Linked DNA regions of Homo sapiens. The protein of the gene in region 1 purifies or fractionates together with the protein of each later gene. This does not show direct contact. Each region holds a gene or a part of one and is shown in the gene's direction. Other genes may lie near its edges.

Evidence for each region. Proteins that work in one complex are often made in the same cells at the same time.
Region 2: the proteins of PDS5A (region 1) and EFTUD2 purify together in Homo sapiens (affinity purification with western blotting; 2 studies listed by BioGRID, with this or other methods). This does not show direct contact.

What each region holds. Positions count from the first base shown.
Region 1 is NC_000004.12:39,901,412-39,904,911, reverse strand, and holds part of PDS5A (sister chromatid cohesion protein PDS5 homolog A), read left to right. Parts: intron 1-720; coding exon 721-872; intron 873-2,451; coding exon 2,452-2,565; intron 2,566-3,500. UniProt on the Homo sapiens protein: Probable regulator of sister chromatid cohesion in mitosis which may stabilize cohesin complex association with chromatin. May couple sister chromatid cohesion during mitosis to DNA replication.
Region 2 is NC_000017.11:44,892,946-44,896,445, reverse strand, and holds part of EFTUD2 (116 kDa U5 small nuclear ribonucleoprotein component), read left to right. Parts: intron 1-1,920; 5' UTR 1,921-1,924; coding exon 1,925-2,029; intron 2,030-3,500. UniProt on the Homo sapiens protein: Required for pre-mRNA splicing as component of the spliceosome, including pre-catalytic, catalytic and post-catalytic spliceosomal complexes. Component of the U5 snRNP and the U4/U6-U5 tri-snRNP complex, a building block of the spliceosome.

The sequences.
Region 1 (3,500 bases):
AATTATAATCACTTCTAAAACTTGGTGAATTTTCTTTCAATAGAATCAAATGAACTCTCCCATAAGGTTATTAATAGTTTTCAAGGGAAATAAAAAATCAGTAACCTGTAGTTCTAGGTACTCAGGATGCTAAGGCAGGAGGATCACTTTAGCCCAGAAATTTGAGACCAGCCTAGGCAACGTAACGAAACCCCATTTCTTTAAAAAGAAAAAAGTAGATCATTTAGCAATATTTGCATTGGAAAATTTCTAAATAGGAACAGATTCAAAATTGTTTGTAGGCTGGGCGCGGTGGCTCACGCCTGTAATCCCAGCACTTTGGGGGGCCGAGGCGGGCGGATCATGAGGTCAGGAGATCGAGACCATCCTGGCTAACAGGGTGAAACCCCGTCTCTACTAAAAATAAAAAATTAGCCGGGCGTGCGGGCGCCTGTAGTCCCAGCTACTTGGGAGGCTGAGGCAGGAGAATGGTGTGAACCTGGGAGGCGGAGCTTGCAGTGAGCCAAGATCCTGCCACTGCACTCCAGCCTAGGCGACAGAGTGAGACTCCGTCTCAAAAAAAAAATAAAATTGTTTGTAAAGCCTCTTTTGAAGAGAAATAGTGTGCCAGTTTATAAAGGCACACATAAGACTGTACAACCTAATGAAGCCAAGGCAGTCTTTGGAGATTAGTACAGAGTTTTGTTATCTTGCTCATCTAATAAATTTTATGCTTTTTAGTGGCGAGTAAGAAAAGAAGCTATGATGGGTCTGGCTCAGCTTTATAAGAAATACTGTCTTCATGGTGAAGCAGGAAAGGAAGCTGCAGAGAAAGTCAGCTGGATAAAGGACAAACTTCTGCATATTTATTATCAGAACAGCATTGACGACAAGTGAGTTTAATATGTTGGTAGAATGGTTGAGTGTAAAACTACTTTTTACTTAAAAAATGTCTATTTAATATTTTAGTAATTTCTTATTTTTATGTATTTACTTCATAAATAAAATTAAGTTTATTCAACTTGATTAATCATTTATTTCTAAGTTTAGAGATAGCTTTTTACATATTTTTATGTACTGTGTTTAAACAAGACTGTCCACGATTATAAGGTAGCCTTATAATATGAAATAGGCATGAACTTTGGAGTTAGAGACCAAATGTTCACTCTGCCCTTTATTAGATGTGTATTCTTACATAGGTTCATTAAGGTCTTGTGCGCTTCAGTTTTATATAAAAAGGAAAAATAATAGTGCCTTTCCCACAGGATTATCATGTAGATTAAATAAAATAATGAATATAAAGCATCCTAGCCCAATGTGTGGCAAGAGAGCACTATTGAGTTAACTGCTAGTTACTTTCCTTTTTACACCACTACCAATAGAGGAATTACTAAGTTGTTTTCATTTTCTGAATATTACTTATAATTCTATATTGGATCGTACAAATGATACTTGGTGTGTGCAGAATAGTTTCCATTGTTTTGTTTAATTAAACTAACTTCTCTGGCATCACTGGATATGTATTTCATTTGTTAATTAAGAGATCTTGTATATTCTTAATCCAGTGATATTAAATAATAGAAGCAAGAAGATACAAGCAATAGGTACTAGCAAGAAGGATATTCCAATATTGGTAAGGAATTTAGATCATGGAGAGAACAATAATCAGATGTACACAGGAAAAACTACATTTTCTGGAAGTAATATGAAGGGGGGTCCCCCTGTTTTTAACTATGTGACAACATGGAAAATGGGCTGAACTGTAATCAGAGGAAATTAATGAGTTTCTTGAGAATTAGCTCTACCGCGGATCATAGCTTTATATGTTGCGTTAATGAATTTGCTTTTGTTCTAGACTGCTGAAGAAGAATAGGCGGAACAGCCTAGCACCCTGTGTTTAGGAATAACATTTAAACCTTCTAGAACAAATGTTTCATACTGACAAATTATAAAGCCACAGACAGTAACCGTGTCTCTAAAGTTAAACTGTACTGAAAGCTTTCCAAGAAGGAAGTCATTATAAACTGATATCTTCCATTGTATGTGCACACATAGCTATTATCTTGATATGGTATCCTGGCATAAGATGGTTAAAACTTAAAATGTTGGCTGGGTGTGGTGCCTCATGCCCGTCGTAATCCCAGCACTTCAGGACGCTAAGGCAGGCGGATTGCCTGAGCTCAGGAGTTCCAGATCAGCCTTGGCAACATAGGGACACCTTGTCTCTACAAAAAATATAAAAATTAGCTGGGCATGGTGGCACGCGCCTGTAGTCCTAGCTACTGGAGAGGCTGAGGTGGGAGAATCGCTTGAACCTGCGAGACAGAGGTTGCATTGAGCCGAGTTTGCACCACTGTACTCCAGCCTGGGTGACAGAGCAAGACCCTGTCTCCAAAAAAAAAAAAAAAAATTGCTTCTTAAAAATGGAATAATTGTGTCACTTAGGTTTTTTTTGTTGTTGTTATTTCCTAGACTGTTGGTAGAGAAAATCTTTGCTCAGTATCTTGTCCCCCACAACCTGGAAACAGAAGAGAGAATGAAATGCTTATATTACTTATATGCTAGTTTGGATCCAAATGCTGTAAAGTAAGTTACTTTTCAAATAACTGCTGTATTTTCTAAGGATTTCGTAAAATTACTTCATCTTATCTAATTAGTTGTTATTGATTGGATTGTTGCTGCTTCTATAGTTGAATCAAGAACCTCAGGTAAATATTTATAGACAAAATGTTACGATTTATGTTCAGGTTATTCTTATATGTGTAGGCTTGTTTGGCAGCCAGGTCAGTAGTAGGATGGTTTCAGGTGTTCAAATAAATGACCACGTCAAAATACCTGTGGCTAGTGTCTAAAACTACTGGTGCTTTATCCTTCCAGACTAAATATTAAGCCTAATAACTGAATACTGATTCTTTGTTGGGTGAACATATTCAGATCTTCTCTGTGTAAGATGGCCATATGATTAATGGTCCAACTGGATTATTTTCAGACTGAAAGGGATCACTATTGATATTTTTACTTAAATAGCATAATCAAACTGTCCCAGGCCAACCAGGATGTGTGGTCATTTCACTTTAATAGATTTTTTTTTTAAAGTAAATGTTACAATATATACATATATTATGTTGTACACCATCGTATATGTAATTTTTGTCAAAAATACACAAAGTAAATGAGTGATGTCATTAAGAATTCTGATCTGAAGATGGAAGGATCTTTTCAGCCTAGAAGCTTGACCATCCTGGGCAATGTAGTGAGATTCTGTCTTAAAAAAGAGAGAGAATTTTGAGTTAGGAATTTGACTGTTTGCCATTGTGGCTTCTTCAAGTGTTCCTGCATTATTAGATTAAGACTGCATTTTTAGGCCGGACGTGGAGGCTAACCCCTGTAATCCCAGCATTTTGGGAGGCCAGGGCAGGCAGATAATTTGAGGTTAGGAGTTCGAGACCAGCCTGGCCAACATGGTGAAACCCCATCTCTACTAAAAATACAAAAATATTAGTTGGGCATGGTGGTGCACG
Region 2 (3,500 bases), on another chromosome or scaffold:
TCTATCTCCTGACCTCATGATCCGCCCATCTTGGCCTGCCAAAGTGCTGGGATTACAGGCATGAGCCACTGTGCCCAGCCAGTTAACTACTATTTAAGACAAAATTAAATACTGATAAAGGTGCAAAAAGCTCTAGTAGGATAGAGGAATGAGAAATTGAGGAGCTAGGAAAGCTTGAAGGAGGTGGTGGCATTTGAACTGTTTCTTTGAATAGAATTTCAGTAATTGAAGTGGAGAAAACCCACAAAACACTACTTAATTACAAAGGGAAAATGAGTAACTTTACAATGGAGAGGCCTGGCAAACATCACCTTAATGAAGTGATCAAAGTTAACGTTACCACTAATGGGGCAAATTGAAATCATGTATCACCTGATACGAAATGCATTGAGAAGAACACAGCATCACTTCTATGATATTCCTGCCCAAAACGCATAACCTGAATATTATCATAAGGTAACATCAGACAACCTCAAATCAAGGGACATCCTTAAGGATTTCATGACAGTCCTTGGAAGGAAAGACTGAAGATTGTAGATCCAAAGACTGAAGATTGTAGATCCAAAGAGACTAGAGACATGACAACCAAATGCAAACATGATCCTGGATTGGATCCTTAGGTGTGTAAGGTATTATTGGAACAATCTGTGAAACTTGAATGGGATCTGTAAAGAAGGTGGTAGTAATGTGTGAATATCAATTTTCTGATTTTGATGGTTGTATTGTGGTTATGTAGGAGAATGTTCTTGTTTGTAGGAATTACACATGGTGAGGGAGAGGTTGGCAAACTTTTTCTATTAAGGACTGGATAATATTTTAGGCTTTGTGAGCCATATGGTTTCAGTCTCAACTATTCAACTCTGCTATTACAGTGTGAAGGCAACTGTAAATGATGCAAATGAATATGCATGGCTGTTTTCCAGTGAAACTTTTTTTTTTTTTTTTTTTTTGAGATGGAGTCTTGTTCTGTCTCCCAGGCTGGAGTGCAGTGGTGCCATCTCGCCTCACTGCAACCTCCACCCCCTGGGTTCAAGGGATTCTCCTATATCAGCCTCCTGAGTAGCTGGGATTACAGGTGTGAGCCACCGTACCCAGCTAATTTTTGTATTTTTAGTAGAGACAGCGTTTTGCCATGTTGGCCAGGCTGGTCTCGAACTCCTGACCTCAGGTCATCTGCCTGCCTTGGCCTCCCAAAGTGCTGGTATTACAGGCATGCGCCACCGCGCCCGGCCTCCCAATGAAACTTTTTTAATAGACACTGACATTTGAATTCCTTATAATTAATTTTCATGTATCATGAAATATTTTTCTTTTGACTTTTTCCCTGGCAATTTACAAATGTGAAAAAGCATTCTTAGCTTGAGGGCCATGTAAAAACAGCTGGAGGGGCCAGATTTGGCCACAGGCCAGAGTTTGCCCACCCTTACACTAAAGTATTAGGAGGTGATGAGCCATTGTGTCAACAGCTCACTTTCAAATAATTTAGGAAAAAGTAAGTTATTTGTACTGTTCTTGCCATTTTTTGATACTGAGTTGTTTTAAAATTAAATTTAGTATTAAAAAAGTGGAGGGAGGGGGACCTCCTCTTTTGGCTTTGGAGCGCCCCCCACGCCCCATCTCTGTACGGCGGAGCTTCTTCCTTCTGTCTTCTTTCTTCCTTCTTGCCTATTCAACTCTCTGCTCCTTAAAACCCAAAACAAGAAAAGTGGAGGGAAGACTACATAAATAGAGACAAGTAAGGCAGAGACTTGGGGAAAGTACTGGGCTTTGGGAGGAGCATTCAGTAGGTTGATGTCACTGGAGAGGAGGCATGTGAAAGGGGTATGGCCAACCATAAGACTAAGACTAGACAGGTGGAGCCACCACATGAAGGCCTTGATTACCTTGTCAGAATCTAACTCTTCTCTCCTTGAATTTTAGCATCATGGATACCGACTTATATGATGAGTTTGGGAATTATATTGGACCAGAGCTTGATTCTGATGAAGATGATGATGAATTGGGTAGAGAGACCAAAGATCTTGATGAGGTAAAACAAATATATTGCTCTTTTATCTCACTCTTATTTATTTTATTTAAGACAAGATCTCACTCTCTTGCCAGGTTGGAGTGCAGTGGCGCAATCTCAGCTCACTGCAACCTCCACCTCCTGGGCTTAAGTGATCCTCCCACCTTGGCCTCCCAAGTAGCTGGGACTACAGGTATGCACCACCATGCCCAGCTAATTTTTTTTTATTTTTCGTGGAGATGAAACATTGCCCAGGCTGGTCTTGAACTCCTGAGCTCGAGCAGTCCACCTGCCTTGGCCTCCCAAACTGCTAGGATTACAGGCATGAGCCACCATGCCCAGCCCCCTCTTTTTTCTTTTTTTTTTTTTTGAGACAGTCTCACCCTGTTGCCCAGGCAGGAGCGCAGTGGCACCATCTTGGCTCACTGCAGCCTCTGCCTCCCAGGTCCAAGCAATTCTCAATGCCTCAGCCTCCTGAGTAGCTGGGATTACAGGTGTGTGCCACCATGCCCGGCTAATGTTTTTTGTATTTTTAGTAGAGACAGGGTTTCACTATGTTGTCCAGGCTGGTCTTGAAGTCCTGACTTCAAGCAATCCACCTGCCTTGGCCTCCCAAAGAGCTGGGATTATAGGCATGAGCCACCATGCCTGCCCCCCCACCCCCCCCCCCACCTTTTTTTAAAAAACAATGAAATTTTGAATCCTCTGTGTTCCAGTGATACCCTGGGTACGTCTCTTGAGATTGTCCTTTTTATAACATGACTTAGTGGGATCTCATACTGCTCCAGCAAAGCTTCGCTACTAAGGTTCCAAAAGGGAATATGTAGTTTCATTGATGAGATGGTTTTGTAATCTGAGCTCTAGTTGATCATTAGTTCTTCCATTTCCCTGAAGTGTCTTTTAACAGTCATGAATAATTCCCACTTGGAAAAGATACTCAACTCTTCCAGCTACAGCTGCACTGGGAGCTCCCTCACAAGCTCAGATTTTCAGAGATGCATAAAAGCAATAGAAAGGGCCCGGGCGTGGTGGCTCATGCCTGTAATCCCAGCACCTTGGGAGGCCAAGGTGGTCAGATCACACGGTCAGGAGTTCAAGACTAACCTGACCAATACGGTGAAACCCCGTCTCTACTAAAAATACAAATATTAGCCAGGCTTGTTGGCGCGTGCCTGTAGTCCCAGCTGCTTGGAAGGCCGAGGCAGGAAAATCACTTGAACACGGGAGGCGGAGGTTGCAGTGAGCCAAGATTGTGCCACTGTACTCCAGCCTGGGCAACAAGAGTGAGACTCGGTCTCAAACAAAAAAAAAAAAAAATGACTGTTGAGTACTTAGGAAGCTAGCATGAGTTTTATAAAAATAATTTTCTCTTGATAGGATTACTAGGTTGAGCCACAGGTCAGGGGCATGCTGTGGACATGATGTATCTTGATTTGGGCAAGACATTTGAAGTTTTTTATTGATGTCTTATAAACCAGCATTTTTTTTTCTT